Linked DNA regions of Homo sapiens: region 2 is linked to region 1. Evidence: fine-mapped expression QTL. A gene starts in region 1. The other region holds a variant in brackets. All regions are shown on one strand. Distances are between the middles of the regions. Region 1 holds the start of AP2A2 (adaptor related protein complex 2 subunit alpha 2). Region 2 overlaps AP2A2 (adaptor related protein complex 2 subunit alpha 2).

Evidence for each region.
Region 2: its variant is fine-mapped to the expression of AP2A2 in whole blood (INTERVAL, PIP 0.98).

The regions. Positions count from the first base shown.
Region 1 is chr11:921,674-929,989 of GRCh38, forward strand. AP2A2 (adaptor related protein complex 2 subunit alpha 2) reads left to right here and starts at 4,197. Exons shown (of 22, transcript NM_012305.4): 1 at 4,197-4,415. The coding sequence starts at 4,349. RefSeq lists a silencer at 4,009-4,548.
Region 2 is chr11:992,693-1,001,008 of GRCh38, forward strand. It overlaps AP2A2 (adaptor related protein complex 2 subunit alpha 2), which reads left to right. Exons shown (of 22, transcript NM_012305.4): 12 at 592-689; 13 at 1,062-1,293; 14 at 1,380-1,553; 15 at 7,740-7,906. Among named protein-coding and RNA genes, the nearest start is that of MUC6, 40 kb to the right of the region's middle. RefSeq lists an enhancer at 1,592-2,116. The variant C/T (reference allele first, on the strand shown) is at 5,041.

The sequences.
Region 1 (8,316 bases):
GTGGCTGCACCCCCACAGCCTCAGAGGACGGCCCTGAGAGCCTGTGAAGGTGCTGGCCTTGTGCAAGTTACACATCTCCAAGCCTTTGGCAGGAAGGGTCTCCTTAGGAGAAGCTGGGCAGGTTCAGTCCCTGAGTCCTCTGAGCCCCTTTTTCTGCATTATGTCCAGGGATTTCTGTCATTGTAACCATGTTTTAGGGGCTGCCCTGCATGTAGCTTCCAGGAATTTGGCCCAGCAGCAGCCGGACGGACCCTGGGCTGCCAGGCTGGCTCAGTTGATCCAGACACCGTGGGTGCTGCAAAGGACCCAGCTGTTGTCCGGGGCCTGTGTCTCAAAAGCCATCCTACAAGTGTTCTGTGGGGTTTTGTTGACAGAAACTCAGCTTCCCGCTGTTCACAGGTGCCCAGTCATCCCCCTCTGTGCGATTGTGGGTGTGGATGTGTTGGGGCCTGACTCAGGATCAAGGGCTGAGCTGGGCGGGGACTCTTGGGAAGTGGGGCTTGGGGTCCCAGGTTATCGAATTTACCCCATGCCAGTTCTCTGGGCCCCGCACAGCACTGCAGCTCTCCCGCCAGACGTCTGGGGAGGCTGCACCTCCCACCCTGGTGGCTGTTTTGCTGCTGTCTGGGCCCAGCTGTGAATGGCTTTGTATTCCTCCGGCTTTGCAGTGGTGAGAAAGATGTGTGGTCATGGCAGCTCCCACCCGCCCCGTGATGAGCACTCAGGAGCCTGAGCTCATCTTCTCCTCCTTCAGGTGGGCTGGCTATACCTGACGCACCCACCCACCGCAGAGTTCCAGAATGCACCCCTCATGCCTCCCACCCTTCCATGGCAGGGGACAGTCAGTTCCCACAGCCTTCCCTGAGCATGTCACTCCTGGGGACTGCAGGTGCTCAGATGATCACGGGGGGGCCACAGGGTCTGAGCATGCCACCTCATTGTCCCTGAACTCTCATGAGTGCACAGGGACCAACTGTACATGGAACATGCTGCCAGACCCTCTTCTGGAAGGGTCATTGTCTGCAACTTACGCCAGAGATGATGAGAAGGAAACTGGGTCATTTGTAAAACAGACATGTTCAGGTCTGGGTAGGACCCAGGGCATGGCCAGCTAACGCTGCAGGGGCTATATGTTGGGGAACCCTGCTGCAGTGAGACAGCACCTCCACACCGCAGCTTGGGGCCCCAGCCTGTTTTCCCTTCATGATGCCCACGTCGGGCTTGTATCTGTGGACCCTGGCTTCCCCATGGCTGTGGATGAAGGAAAGCGACTCGTCCCCACCTCTGCCCTTGGGAATAGTACTGTGACCTTGCGTGGCTAAAGTATGACAAACGTTCAAATAATTTAAGAAATGGCTGGGCGCGGTGGCTCACGCCTGTAATCCCAGCACTTTGGGAGGCCGAGGAGGGCGGATCATGAGGTCAGGAGATTGAGACCATCCTGGCCAACATGGTGAAACTCCACCTCTGCTAAAAATACAAAAAATTAGCCGGGCGTGATGGTGCGTGCCTGTAATCCCAGCTACTGAGAAGGCTGAGGCAGGAGAATCGCTTGAATCCGGGAGGTGGAGGTTGCAGTGAGCCGAGATCATGCCATTGCACTCCAGCCTGGGCGACAGAGCAAGACTCCATCTCAAGGAAGAAAAAAAAAAAAAAAGAAAGATACTGAGGCTAGGCACAGTGGCTTGTAATCTCAGCACTTTGGGAAGCCAAGGCAGGAGGACTGCTTGAGCCCAGGAGTTCAAGACCAGCCTGGGCAACATAGTGAGACTCCATCTCCACAAAAATCAGAAACTTAGCCAGGTGTGGTGGCGTGCACCTGCAGTCTAAGCACTTTGGGAGCCAAGGCAGGAGGATGGTTTGAGCCCAGAAGGTCGAGGCTGTAGTGATTCATGATTGTACCACTGCACTCCAGCCTGGGAGTCAAAGGGAGAAACCCTGTCTCTAAAATTAAACATAAATAAATAAATAAATAGGCCAGGCATAGTGGCTTGCATCTGTAATCCCAGCACTTTGGGAGACACAGGCAGGCGGAATGCTGGGATTACAGGAGTTCAAGACCGGCCTGGGCACCGTGGTGAAATGCCATCACTACAAAAAATAAAATAAAGAAAAAGAAACTGTTTCCTAGGACTGCGCACTCCCGAAGCTGGCCTCTCCCGAGCCGAGGAGTGGCAGTGGTCAGAGAGGCCCACATGGACTCAGACCCAAGGCTGGGACTGGAGTGAATCATCTGGAGGGCTTGCGTGTCTGCAAGGGCAACGACGCTGGAAGGAGGTGGGAAGTCTTTTGCATGGCTGCATGTCGGGCCTTCTGGGACCCCTAAACACTCTTGTGTGGACGGGAGGATGTCTGTGGGAATCCCAGAGCTGGCACTGAGGAGGAGTCTTCCGAGTGGGCGGAGGGGGATGCCTGCCAGGCCCAAGCCCTCCTGTGGGCAGCCCCTGCAGCACCCCCATTGCCCTGCTCTGTGAGTGGCTGCTGGTGGGGGGGCACAGTGGTCTGCTTGTCTCGGTCTTCTGCACTGCCACTGCCAATGGGAGCTTGGATTAGGCATGCCAGCCTCCTGACGCCCAGAGCCCATGCTCTGCCCACGTGTGTTAGTGGACGGTCCTCGTGACTGCTGGGACTGTCCTGGAGAGCAGCCCAGGACCCCTCACATGGCACAAGATGCTCTTGTGTCCAGAATGGCCTTTATTTGTTGTCAGGGACAGGGGAGGGAAGCTTCTTGGTGGAAGGGAGAGGCTGAAGAATGAACAGCCCCGGGACCACTTTCTCTGCCAGGAGGTGGCACTGGGAGAGGATAGGGACTCCGGAGGGGTGTACCGTCCTCCAGGAAGCCCTCTGCTGGGTCGGCTCCGTGCCTCTGTCTTGGGAAGTGATGGACTTGGTTGCCTTATGCTGACTGGGGTCTGTCACAGATCTTGGTTTTCCCCAGGAGTTCTGGAGGCCCAGAGCCTGGGTGCGGCACCCGGTTCATTGGGGAGGGGCATGGGTCCTGTGCCCTCCTCCTGGCCGGGCTCCACCAGGGCTAAGCTCTCATCTGGGGCTGCGGAAGTGAGCCAGGGTGGGGACAAAGCCCTGGCTGGTGGGTCTGGGCCAGTTCCAGGTACAGGGTCCAGATCCCCCCACTGCAGCAGGAGGGAGCTTCCTGTTCAAAGCCATCTGGCTCTGGGAAGGACAGTGAGGCAGGGCCATCTGCTTCCCCACTCCCTGGGGTCTCTTCCTGGCCGGGACCTGGAGCTGTGCAGCCTGGCCCAGCAGGTCCTCCCTTGCGATGTGTCCACAGGGGTGGGCCTAGGCCTCCAGCTTGCAGTGGTGCAGAGGGCTGGGGAGCAGAGGGGGCCCTGGCAACAGTGGCCAAAAGTCCTGGCGCCGCCGAGGGACTAGATTCCGCAGGGGCTGCCGCCCCCGGCCGCTGTCACTGGGGTGGGGTGGGTGGTTGTTTCTCTGCAGGCCCAGGTGATGTGGAGGGGGCACCTGGGCTGCCACACAGACCCTGGGCTGGGTCGGGCACGGGGCCTGCCTCGCCCCCAGCTCAGGGACCGCAAGAGATGTGGCCCTGGCGGCTCAGGGCGGCAGGAGGGGCGGGCCAGCCCCACCGTCTCAGGATACCGTGCTAGGGGAGGGTTTCCTCGCCAAAGGCCGTCCAGCGGCTGTGACCCCTTCGCCTGGAGCCCCAGCTTCCTCCCGGCGCCGCCCTCCCGCCCCGGCCCCCGCGGAACAAACAAGGCCCTGGCCTCGGAGCTGCCCCGCCGCCCAGCGCTCACAGGTCGTTTATTCCAAGTAAGAAAACGGAGACTGCTCGGGGCAAGCTAGCGGGGCCGAGGCCCAGGACGAGGCCGTACGCGTGTGCCTGCGTGGCCGCCTCTTTTGCAGTGACCACCAACAACGACAGAGGCGGCCCGCTGCACACGCGGGTTCCCGCCCGGACCCACGCCCTTCCCGTGGGGGACGCGGGCGGCATCGCCAGCTTGGCGCGGCCCCGGGACGCGAACGCGTGGCTTCAGCGGCTCCGTCCATGGTGTCCGCCTGCAGGGGGCGCCCCCGCGCCTGCCTCGACCGGCTCGCCCCCGTGCCGCGGACGCGCGCGCGCTGCCTCACGCGACACCCGCCCCGGCCGCCGTCCGTCGTCGCTCGCGTGCGTGCGCGTGCGTGCTGGTGCGGGCGCCGTACGTGCGCGCGCGCGGCGGCCCAGAAAGCGGCGCTGGGACCCTGAGGCGGCCGTGGTTAGGCGGCTCCCCGGCGGCTCCTCCGCGGCGGTGACGGCGACCGCACTCCCCGCTTCCCGCTCCCCGCGCTCCTCCGCCCGGGTCCGCCAGCCGAGGCCGCTCCCGAGCGTCGGAAGATGCCGGCCGTGTCCAAGGGGGACGGGATGCGGGGCCTGGCGGTCTTCATCTCGGATATCCGCAACTGTGAGTGGCGGGGGCGGCGTGGGGCCGGGGCCGGGGCCGCCGGCGGAGACGGGGTCTGGGAGCGGAGGCCCGGGGCGGGGCCTCGAGGCGGGGGTGCAGGCTGGGATGCGGGCGGGGCCCGGGGCCTGAGGGTGCGGGCGGCGCTCGGGGTCTTGGGGTACCGGGTCTGGGGGTGGGGGCCAGGGTGCGGGGTGGGGGTCCAGGGTCTGGGGGTGCGGGCGGCGCTCAGAGTCTTGGGGTATCGGGTATGGGGGTGCGGGTCAGGATGCAGAGCGGGGCCCTGGGTCTGGGGGTGCGGGGTGGGGTGTCCAGGGTCTAGGGGTGCGGGGTCTAGGGGTTTAGGGCACGGCCCTTCATCCACATCTCCACTCCCGTTTGCTGGTCCGTGCGGGGGGCTGCGGCACCACCAAGGGGGTTCCGGGCCAAGACGCCCCTCCCCAGCATGATGTCACCTTGGTCTTTCTAGTACTGGAGCGTTTAACCCAGCGTTTTCCAAAACGGCGTGGATTTTAGCTTTGGGAGCAGAAATCTGGAAATCAGTGTCTTCCCAGGAAACAGCTTTGTGACCTGGGTTCTGGAGGCTTATTAACCCCTGATTAGATCTCACCTACGACGATTAAAATGACTCATTCCCGGAGGGAATCTGGACACGAGCAGCAGTCGGGGTGTGGGATGGCCTCGCTGCCTGCTGCTCCAATCACAGACCTCGTTCTCAGCCCCGTGCCTGTCCCCTCGGGGTGGGAAAAATCCACACCAAACCGTTAAACAAGCCAGGAAGGCTGGGCCTGTTAGAAGGATGTGCAGGGTGGCTGGGTGGGTGCACCGGTCCACCAATTAATTTGACTTTGGTGTGCAGAACCTCCTCTTGGCTTTCAGAGGCCATCTCCTTATTTAATTTGAGGGAGAAACAAAGCCAGTTTCCTGTCTGCTGCGTTGATTTTTTTCCTTGTTATCCAGCAAATAGTTGACTTCATGATTTTTGTTTTTCTTTTTTTTGAGACAGGGTCTTGCTCTGGCTCTCAGGCTGGAGCGCAGTAGTTCCATCACGGCGCACTCAACCTCCCACCTCAAGTGATCCTACCACCTCAGCCTCCGGAGTCACTGGGACTACAAGCGTGCACCACCACCATGCCTGGCTGATTTTCGTGTTTTTTGTAGAGATGGGGGGGTCTCGCCATGTTGCCTAGGCTGGTCTCGAAATCCTGAGCTCAAGTGATCCACCTGTCTTGGCCTCCCAAAGTCCTGGGGTTACTGGCGTGAGCCACGGCACCCTCATAATTTTTAATGTGTATTTTGAGGGACTGTTGTGATCTTCCCTTTGAATTCTCATCTCCTTAGACGGGATGGAGGATCAGGAGGATAGTGGTTCTCCCACACTCTGTGGAAGGGTAGAGGACCATCTAACCCTTCCTGTACTCTGTTAAAAAAAAAAAAAAAAAGCATAGAGCTGGGTGCGGTGGCTCAAACCTATAGTCCCAGCATTTTGGGAGGCTGAGGCAGGTGGATCTTTTGAGCCCAGAAGTTTGAGACCAGCCTGGGCAATGTGGTAACACCCTGTCTCTACAAAAAAATACGAAAATTAGCTGGGCGTATTGGTGTACACATCTATAGTCCCAGCTACTTGGGAGGCTGAGAGAGGAGGATCACTTGACCCCAGGAGGTTAAGGCTGCAGTGAGCTGAGATCGCGCCATACTCCAGCCTGGGTGACAGAGTGAGACCTTTCTCACAAAAAAAAAAAAAAAAAAAAAAAAGGCTTAGAAACACCCTCAGATCAGCACTTTTACGAGTAGCATTTTTTCTCTTTGTTTGTTACATAATGAGACCAACATGCATTTTGTAAAACTAAGTGTGTGTATTATTTCTTAAGGGGACCTCTGGGACAAAGACTGAGTACCCTTAAATGCGCTATGATGTCTGTCCTTCCATTTTTGAAGAAAATTGCGTTAGGCAGGACAATGAGATTGAAAGCCATTTCCTCAGACAGCAAGTCACCCACTTGTCAGATATATTGTCTGTGCCAGGGCCTGCGTTTGACAGGATGGCGCCTACCACAGTGAGTGCGGTATAGCCGTCCTCCCTTATTTGTGGTTTCACCTTCTGAGGTTTCAGTTACCTCTGGTGATCTGAAAATAGGTGAGCATAGTACAATAAGATATTTAAAGAGACCACATTCATATAACTTTTATTACAGTATATCATTACAGTTCTTTTTTATTATTGGCTTCTGTTAATCTCTTACTGTGCCTAATCTGTAAGTTAGACTTTTTCATAGGTATGTGTGGGAAAAAAGCAGCTTGTATAGGATTTAGTATCATCTGAAGTTTCAGGCACCCACTGAGTGCCTTGGAACGTATACCTGTGGATATGGGGAAACTGCTGTACTCTATAAAATACTTGACTATATAGACCAGACTTTCTCCAACTCAGCAGAGCTGACATTTGGGGCTGGATCACACTTTATTGTGGGGAACTGTTCTGTGCCTTTTAGGATGTTTATAGCAGCACCAGTTGCCTTAGTTGTGATAAGGAACAATGTCTCCAGGCATTGACAAATGTGCCCTTAGGGCAAAGTTGTCCGCCGTCGAGAACCACTAGTGTATCCCATTGAATAACACAGCCCCTCCCCTGAAGGAGCTCGTAGAAGAAGGGGTGCTTAGTCCTAGCTGGGGGAGCCAGGTCTCTTTAATACGGCCCCTTTCTCGGAATCCTCTTTCCCTCATTGCTGTTGGATGGCCTCTCATCAGCTGCAGCGCCCACCATTCTCCTCCTGGGCAGTGTCTTCAGCTTGTGGTGCTGCTTTTCACCTGAGTGGCCCCATCTCCCCCACTGCCCTCTAGGGTGGCCTCTACAAGGTGCGCACCCTATCTTGCTCATCACATTTTTCCTGCTGTTCTCCTCATGGCGAGCGTCTGGCATGCGAGGTGCATGCCAGAGAAGACCTCACAAGGAAGGTGATTCTTGGGCAATTCAGGCAGAAGACCAAGAAGGTATTAGAGGAACAGCAAATAATTAATGTATATACGTATTGAGTTAATGAATGTTGGCTGGTGCCTGGAGACGGGATTGGAGAGCCAGCCAGGGTTTGAGCTGATCTGAACTTGACCTCCATGTCACAGGCAGAGGGGTCCCCGCTTCCCCTTTCCCTGGCCAGCTCTGATTTTGTGTGCTGTTTTCCTGTCATGAGAGTGAATGATAGGAGTAGTCGGGCCCTGTGGAAAGAGGACTCTGAGCCAACAGCCAAGGCTCTTGACCCTGACTCTGCCTCTTAGCAGCTGCATGAGTGGAGGCCACTGGCCATGGAGCCTCAGTTTCCACAGCGGACAGTTGAAGGGCTGGATTTTCAGCTGAAATATCATTAAAGCTGCGTGAGTGGAGGCCACTAGCCACGGAGCCTCAGTTTCCTCAGCTGACGCTTGAAGGGGCGGATTTTGAGCTGAAATATCGTTAAAGCCTGTTTCAGCTCCAAATTTGCGTCTTTCTGACCAGTTTCTTAAGTTTTCCTCCTTTAGCCTGGGCAATATAGTGAGACCCCTGTCTTTTCAAAAGAGAAAAAAGAATTAGCCAGGCGTGGTGGCACGCACCTGTGGTCCCAGTTACTCAGTGGGCTGAGGTGAGAGCATTGTCTGAGCCCTGGAGGTTGAGGCTGCCATGAACTCGGATTGCGCCACTGCACTCCAGCCTGGGCAGCCTGAGGAGCAGATTGAGACCCTGCCTCAAAAAAAAAGTTTTTCCCCTCCAAGACCTGGTGCCAGCCGGGTGCGGTGGCTCACGCTTGTAATCCCAGCACTTTGGGAGGCTGAGGTGGGCGGATCACCTGAGGTCAGGAGTTCAAGACCAGCCTAGCCAACATAGGGAAACACTGTTTCCACAAAAATACAAACATTAGCTGGGCGTGGTGGC
Region 2 (8,316 bases), 71 kb after region 1:
CCGCAGGATGGCAGGAAGGATGGGGTGGAGGGCAGTTGCAGAAGGTGAGCAGTGAGTGGTTCCAGCCTGCCTGCGTGGAGGTGCCGAGGGCCGTTGCTGACCCCTCTTGCCCCTCAGCTCTTCCCTGAGGCTCTAGCTCCTCCACTGTTGGTGCCCCTTGCTGAGTCCCAGTTTCTTCTCACCCTAACTCTCAAACTTCTGGCTCTCTGGGGGCCACCTGAGAAAGCCGGCCTCTGTGTGTGTGAGAGCATGCTGGGGCATGCCGTGGTGGGGCCTGCCCTGTCCGTCGGAGAGGGTTAGGCCACCGGCAAGGGGTGTGCCATGAGGACGCTGGCAGAACCTCCCCAGCCAGAGCCTGTTGTGGATGCTGCAGCTCCCTCCAGGGCAGGTCAGCGTGTGGCAGCCTTGGGTTCCTTGCTGCTGACACAGGTACTGAGGGTGCTGAGGAAGGCAGGGATGGGCACTTGGACTGGGGTCTCCAGGAAGCTGAGGGGCTGGTGCTGGTGTAGGGTGCACCGCGCCAGGACGTGCCCGCCTCGCCTTAACTCTGGCACCTGGCTGCCACCCCGGCTCATTGTTTGTGCTTCGCAGGCTCTTCAGGCTCCCGCGTGCCACGAGAACCTGGTCAAAGTGGGCGGCTACATCCTGGGGGAGTTTGGAAACTTGATAGCTGGAGACCCGAGATCCAGGTGAGAGGCCCTTTGCGAGTCGGGGCTGTGTGCGCTCCGGCGGGCCTCTCGGTGGTCGGTGGCAAGAGGCGAGGCACCAGCTGGCCCTGCCGTGAGGCCTCGCAGAGCCGCTTCTGCTCCCCATCGGCGTCTTTTTGTTTTCCTTCAGTTGATAGAAAAAGCAGGGATTCTAGTAGAAAATGGAGACGTGGGGTTGATGGCTGACTTAGTGAAAGGGGCGTCTTTGCGGTGGGATCTGGAGCTGGAAGAGGGTCCCGACCAGCGGCCTCTGGTGCAGGCCAGGGGGTCTCGCCGCCGTCCCCCCCCCGCGGGGGCGTGCTGCAGCCTGCGAGGGGACGACGGTGTCCCTGTGTTGTGCCTCCCCGTCCCCAGCCCGCTGATCCAGTTCCACCTGCTGCACTCCAAGTTCCACCTGTGCAGCGTCCCCACCCGCGCGCTGCTCCTGTCCACCTACATCAAGTTCGTGAACCTCTTCCCGGAGGTGAAGCCCACCATCCAGGACGTGCTGCGCAGCGACAGCCAGCTCAGGAACGCAGACGTGGAGCTGCAGCAGCGTGCTGTGGAGTACCTGCGGCTCAGCACCGTGGCCAGCACCGACATTCTGGTAGGAGGCCCCCGCCCTTCGGGCTGGCTTGGCTGAGGGTTGGAGGCCAGGAGCTCTGACCAGTCCCACCCTGTGTTCTTTCCAAGGCGACCGTGCTGGAGGAGATGCCCCCATTCCCGGAGCGGGAGTCCTCCATCTTGGCAAAGCTCAAGAAGAAGAAGGGCCCCAGCACGGTGACAGACCTGGAGGACACCAAGCGGGACAGGAGTGTGGACGTGAACGGGGGTCCTGAGCCTGCCCCAGCCAGTACCAGCGCCGTGGTGGGTCCCTCACCTACTGTGCACCCAGACCTGTCAGGGCCTCACCCCCAAGACTTGGGACCAGCAGAGCATTTGCCTGTCAGGGAGGAGCATGTACTGAGAACCCAGGCTCTGGCTGTGGCTCTGGACACCCCGCTGTCCTGTCCTGGGGGCCACTGTCCCTGCTGGACACGCTGCTGTCCTGTCCTGGGGGCCACTGTCCCTGCTGGACGCCACGCTGTCCTGTCCCGGGGGCCACTGTCCCTGCTGGACGCCCCGCTGTCTGTCCCGGGGGCCACTGTCCCTGCTGGACGCCCCCCTGGCCTGTCCCGGGGGCCACTGTCCCTGCTGGACGCCCCGTTGTCCTGTCCCGGGGGCCACTGTCCCTGCTGCACACCCTGCTGGCCTGTCCCGGGGGCCACTGTCCCTGCTGGATGCCCCCCTGGCCTGTCCCGGGGGCCACTGTCCCTGCTGGACGCCCCGTTGTCCTGTCCCGGGGGCCACTGTCCCTGCTGGACGCCCCCCTGGCCTGTCCCGGGGGCCACTGTCCCTGCTGCACACCCTGCTGGCCTGTCCCGGGGGCCACTGTCCCTGCTGGACGCCCCCCTGGCCTGTCCCGGGGGCCACTGTCCCTGCTGCACACCCTGCTGGCCTGTCCCGGGGGCCACTGTCCCTGCTGGACGCCCCCCTGGCCTGTCCTGGGGGCCACTGTCCCTGCTGCACACCCCGCTGGCTTGTCCCGGGGGCCACTGTCCCTGCTGGACGCCCCTCTGGCCTGTCCCGGGGGCCACTGTCCCTGCTGCACACCCCGCTGTCCTCTCCCGGGGGCCACTGTGCCTGCTGGGCAAGGCACTTCCTTCAGACCGTCGTCTTGTCCAGCTCAGCTCACACATCCTCTGTGGTGCCTTGTTTTAGGGGAAGTGGCCGTCCCCTCTCCTACAGGACTGCCTCACCCAGGCAGCTGTCCTCACATGCTTTGTTGATTTAGAGAGGACCTGTCCTGCCCTGCTCTTCGAGGTTTTATGTAGTGAGTTGGGTTAGGTCTGGTTTTCCTTGTATGTGTGATGCGATGAGAATAATCCTGTAACAGAATGTGTCCTGTGGTATTTGTCAGGTGAGAAGTGTCGTTTTGAGAGTTGCGTTTTTGCTTGGCTCTGCTTGCCAGCTGTTCCCCTCTGCACTGTCAGGGAGGGCTCCTGTCGGGGTCAGGCGGGCTTTCTGTTTGTCCAGTTAGAGGACCTGTCTCTCCAGGACGCAGGTCCAGTGGTGGCAACCAGTGCTGCTACCCAGTATCGGCAGGGCTTTGTGGGGTGAGCTCCTGTGGTGGTGCCTGCCCTGGCAGTGTGCTGGTTGGGAGGGTGCTCATGTCGGAGTCCTGGCACTCCTTGGCGGGGACCTGCTTATGTGCCCCGGCTGACCATGTGTCCTGCCCCTCTGGCCGACAGTGCAGGGCCTGCCATGGGGCTGGTATCCAGGCTGAGCCTGACATCTCAATGAGCAGTCTTCCCTCCCCCTCTTCCTCCCTCTCCCCTCCCTCCACCTAGTGTCCTCTGTGCAGCCCCTGTCCCCCCGTGCCCTCTCTCTGTGTTGTTTGTGGCACGCTGCTGTGCCCGCCATCTGGAGGCTTGAATTGCCTGTGAGCTCATCCTGGAGTGAATGAAATGAATGAAAGATGTGACTCTTTCTCCCAAGGTGGGCGTCTTCCCTTCACGCCTGAGCACCTTCATGCTTATGTTTCTCATGTGCTCTGTAGAGCTGGTGACCTGCTTTTGACCCTGTCTCCTCCCGTGGGACGTCACTAGCCAGGCGCCTAGTGCAGCAGGCCTCTGTCACTCCTCTAATCCATCTCTCCCTCTCCTTTGGACATCTTGACATAGGTTTCTGGAGGCAGAAACTTGCTTGTGGAGATTTGTCTGTGAGCTGCCGGAGCAGGGGCCTTCCCGTGGGTGCTGGGCCGGCAGCGGCTCCGCCCTGCAGAGAGGAGGACGCGGCCCCAGTTGGGTGAGGAGGCGAGGGCAGGATGACGTGATCCAGGGGAGGCTGGTGTGCAGGGATTCCTGGAGGCCGGCTTTCAGCAAGGGCACTGTGAAGTCTTCCACGGAAACCTGGGATTGCCTGTTGGAAGCTGGGAAGGCACCAGGTGCTCTCGCTCCCCTCCAGCTGCTTTGACGTTAAGAGGAACTCGCTGAGGGAGCATGGAAAGGGGCTGTAGGATTGTCTTCAGTCTCTCTTTGGTTCTTATTTGATGTTTCTTTTTAATGTGGGTCCTGAGAAGTGAGGTGTGCCCATACCCCAGGCCTTTGATCACACCCAGGTTTGTCCGGCTAGGCTCAGGGTGGACTTTGGAGGGCCTGGCCTTGACTGTGTGGCTTAGGGATCAGATGGAAGCTTCTGGACCCTGGGAGTGAGAGCAGTGTGCTGCCCTCTGAAAAGGAGGATGAGGGTCCAGTGAGGTTCAGCATTTCTGTAAGGTGCCTTCTTGGAGGGAGTTCCCCCTTCAGGGCTCATTCAGTGGATTTTCTGAGTGTGGCTTCACTCCTGATGGTCAGTGGTGCCTGGCGGGTGGGTTCCTTAGGGAGGTGTCTGTGGCCGAGGCACGCAGCTCTGTTCTGAGCTGAGAGCTGTGGTGTGTGGGCACCTCCGTCCTGACTGAGAGCTGTGGTGTGTGGGCGCCTCCGTCCTGACCGAGAGCTGTGGTGTGTGGGCCCCTCTGTTCTGACCGAGAGCTATGGTGTGTGGGTGTCATTGCTATCCTGTGCTTTCCAATCTGTTCCCATTGCTCACGGGAGCCCCAGTGAGAGGCCCCTCCCTATGGGGAGACACTCCTGGCGAAGTTTTCTTGCTCAGGGTCTTCTGTATGGGCCGTGAAGGGGCCTCAGGGTGGCATCAGCACATGTGCCTTTCCCACGAGAGACAGTGGCTTTATCTTGGTGTCACATTGGCCAAAATGTCTTTTATTTAACATCATAGATGAGGCCAGGACATTTTACTTCTTCCGAGCATCCTCTTTCTGCACACAGCTCCTTGGGGGAGGCTGTGGTGTGCGTGTCCCCGGGTGTGCTGGGGAGCACAGGGGTGTGGGGATCAGAGGCTGCCTGGCTTCACATGCAGGAGCCTGGGGCCCTTGTAGGCAAAACCTTCACCCCTCAAGTTGTCCTGCTATTGGAGGGAGGAGGTGAACTGGTGTGGCCCAGGAGCCAGGCCTGCTCCCTGAGGAGGGTCTCCCAGGCCTGAGAGGATAAGGAAGATGAAGAACCTGAAGTGGGTGTTAGGACCCTACTGTCCTGGGGCCTTGCATCTGGCCTCGCTGTTACAATCTGTGGTAACGTTTCAGGTACAAATGCCTTTACTAGGGCAAAGGGCTTTCCTACTTTAGAAAGCAGTTAAAAGCCATAGATGGCTGGGCATGGTGGCTCACACCTGTAATCCCAGCGCTTTGGGAGGCTGAGGTGGGCGGATCACTTGAGGTCAGGAGTTTGAGACCAGCCTGGCCAACATGGTGAAACCC[C/T]GTCTCTTCTAAAAATACAAAAATTAGCCAGGTGTGGTGGTGTGTGCCTGTAATCCCAGCTGCTCGGGAAGCTGAGGCAGGAGAATTGCTTGAACCCAGAAGGCGGAGGTTGCAGTGAGCTGAGATTGCACCACTGCACTCCAGCCTGGGTAACAGAGTGAGACTCGGTCTCAAAAAAATAAAATAAAATAAAATAAAAGCCATAGATGTATTTGAATCAGTGCAGGAACCAGGGTAACATCTGTGATGAGATGCAGAGGAGAAACTGTCTCCATTTGGGCTGCAGGTGCATGGCCATGGCCAAGGCCGATGGCTTCCCACGCAGCTCACAGCTTTGTCAGGCTGTGGAGGCCACAGTGTTGGCGGGCGCTGTCCCCGGCGTAGGGAGCAAAGCGCCGCCTTCAGATGGTCTCATCGAGACACGCCTTGGATATTTTTGGGACTCTTCTCTGCCAGCTCCTCTGTGACCTCCCACCCTTGGAGCACATGAGACCCGTGTCGTCTTCTCTTGCAGAGGTGCTCCGTCACAAGAGCAGAGCCTGGGAGCCTGCCCCGTTTCTGACTGCCCCCCAATCCCCATTCTGACTCTCACCCGCCCCCATTCTGACCCCCCGCCCCCATTCTGACCTGCACCTTTTTTGCATAACACACTTTGTGATGCCTCATTTATCTTTGAGTAAAATTCATATATCACAAACCCACACATGTAGTTTTTTTGAAAGTACAGTGTGACACCTTAACTTTGCATTAATGTAAAATGGCATTCAGGTGGAGTCTCAGATAATTACAAACTAATTTTTTACCTTCTTAGATGTCCAGTGGAACATTCTAAAGTTACTCAAGACGAATCTTCAAGTTAGGGTGTCTTGTGTCTCTGTTTTTTGCCTGTGAAATGCCAATATCCTTGTGATAGTCAGAGCCCTCCACATCTCCAGAACGCTCTTAGCTGGGTGGGGGGTTTCTCCACCAAGAGCCCCTGGTGTATAGTGTCAAAGTGTGAGTGTTGCCAGGCTGTAGTTCAGTGGTACGATCTTGGCTCACTGCAATCTCCGCCTCCTGGTTTCAGTTCTCCTGCCTCCACCTCCTGAGTAGCTGGGATTACAGGCGTGTGCCACCACACCCAGCTAATTTTTGTATTTTTAGTAGAGACGGGGTTTCACCATGTTGGCCAGGATGGTCTCAATCTTCTGACCTTGGGATCTGCCCCCCTCGGCCTCCCAAAGTGCTGGGATTACAGGTGTGAGCCACCGTGCCAGGCTGGGTGTCCTTTTTATAGGGAGCATCTGAGTCCCTCTGGTGCACAGGCTGCTGTGGGGCAGGACCCGTGGAGCCCAGAGCAGGTCTGAGCTCCCAAAGTCAGGCTGCTGGGGCATTGCTGGGGAGCCTGCTGCCCTGTTGGATGGGTGAGCATGCGATGGACTGAGCTGCTGCTTGTGCCCTGTTGTGAGAGTTTAATCATGAGATCATAGGCGCTCTTTCCTTGTGCCTTTGCCCCAGGATCAAAGAGCAATTACTGGGGCCGGGTGCGGTGGCTCATGGGAGGCCGAGGTGAACGTATCACCTGAGGTCAAGAGTTCGAGACCAACCTGGCCAACATGGTGAAACCCTGTCTCCACTGAAAATACAAAAATTAACTGGGCGTGATGGCGGCCACCTGTAATCCCAGCTACTTGGGAGGCTGAGGCAGGAGAATCGCTTGAGGTGGAGGTTGCAGTGAGCCCACACCAGTGCACTCCAGCCTGGGCAATAGAGTGAGACTGTCTCAAAAAAAACAAAAACAGAGACAGTCTCTTGCTATGTTGCCCAGGCTAGTTTTAAACTCCTGGACTCAAGCAGTCTTTCTGTCTCAACCTTCCAAAGTGCTGGGATTACAGGTGTGGGGCACCATGCCCAGCCAAAAAGCAATTATTTTTTAAAAGTATCCGTTCTGTAGACTTTTAATGATTAATAATGATTTAGTAATAATTTAATGATTAATAATGCACCCGAGTAAGTTATTTGCTTTTTCATCTTTGGAAGCTTACTTTCTTATTGGACAGTTGGCAGTAACATGCATGATCTTAGTTCTTTCTTTTTTTTTTTTTTTTTTGAGATGGAGTCTCGCTCTGTCGCCCAGGCTGGAGTGCCGTGGTGCGATCTCGGCTCACTGCAAGCTCCGCCTCCCGGGTTCACACCATTCTCCTGCCTCAGCCTCCCGAGTAGCTGGGACTACAGGCGCCCACCACCACGCCCGGCTAATTTTTTTTGTATTTTTTAGTAGAGATGGGGTTTCACCGTGTTAGCCAGGGTGGTCTCGATCTCCTGACCTCGTGATCCGCCCACCTCGGCCTCCCAAAGTGCTGGGATGACAGGTGTGAGCCACCGCGTCTGGCCTTTTTTTATGTCTTTCATGGCAAAATTTTTTTGAGAATTTTTTTCATTCAAATAGCATTTGTGAAAAAATGTAGGGTGCCTTAGTGAAATTATGACTGATGTTTTAAGTGCAGTTATCTTTAGGCTGGAGTCTGGGATATACTCAGGAAGTGGCTGTTAGCCCTCACTCTCTGGTCACTCACTGAGTTGTGTGCCACCTGCCCCAGCCACTGGGAGTGCATGGATGCCAAGGGGGTGCCATGGGGGAGGACGTGCAGGCGTGAGCTGCCTGGGGTTGGCCAGGCCAGGGAGGCTCTCTGCTGATGCTCTCCTTCCTTCTCTTCCAGTCTACGCCTTCTCCGTCGGCAGACCTGCTGGGTCTCGGGGCTGCCCCCCCTGCCCCCGCGGGCCCCCCACCCTCCTCCGGCGGCAGCGGGCTGCTCGTGGACGTGTTCTCAGACTCGGCCTCTGTGGTCGCGCCTCTCGCTCCTGGCTCCGAAGACAACTTTGCCAGGTAGTCAGGTTTCCTGAGTCCTGCAGACAGGCACGGGGCTGCCGTGCCCCCTGACTTCTGGTGTGGCCGCGGCCAGCTGGACAGAGGTGGGCAGCGGAGTTTACCTCCCAGATTACTGCCTGGGGGAGAGAGCGGGAGCTGCTGTGTTGTGGGTGGGTTTGCTGTGTCATTCCTCTCACAACCTTGATTTATATGGACTGCAGTGTTCATTACTCTCAGGAGGAAAAGGAGGACATGAAAGAAACACACTGTCTGGGTGGTGGTTGTGTCCTGTCTGCACGGTGATGTCCGATCATGTTTCAGCTGCTGTTTGAGTGTTGATAAACACTCTTTGTAGCTACACGTCTCCTCTCTTCGCCTCTTTCCTGTCTAGTTGGGCTGCTTTTCATTCTGACTTAAGCCGTCTTGTC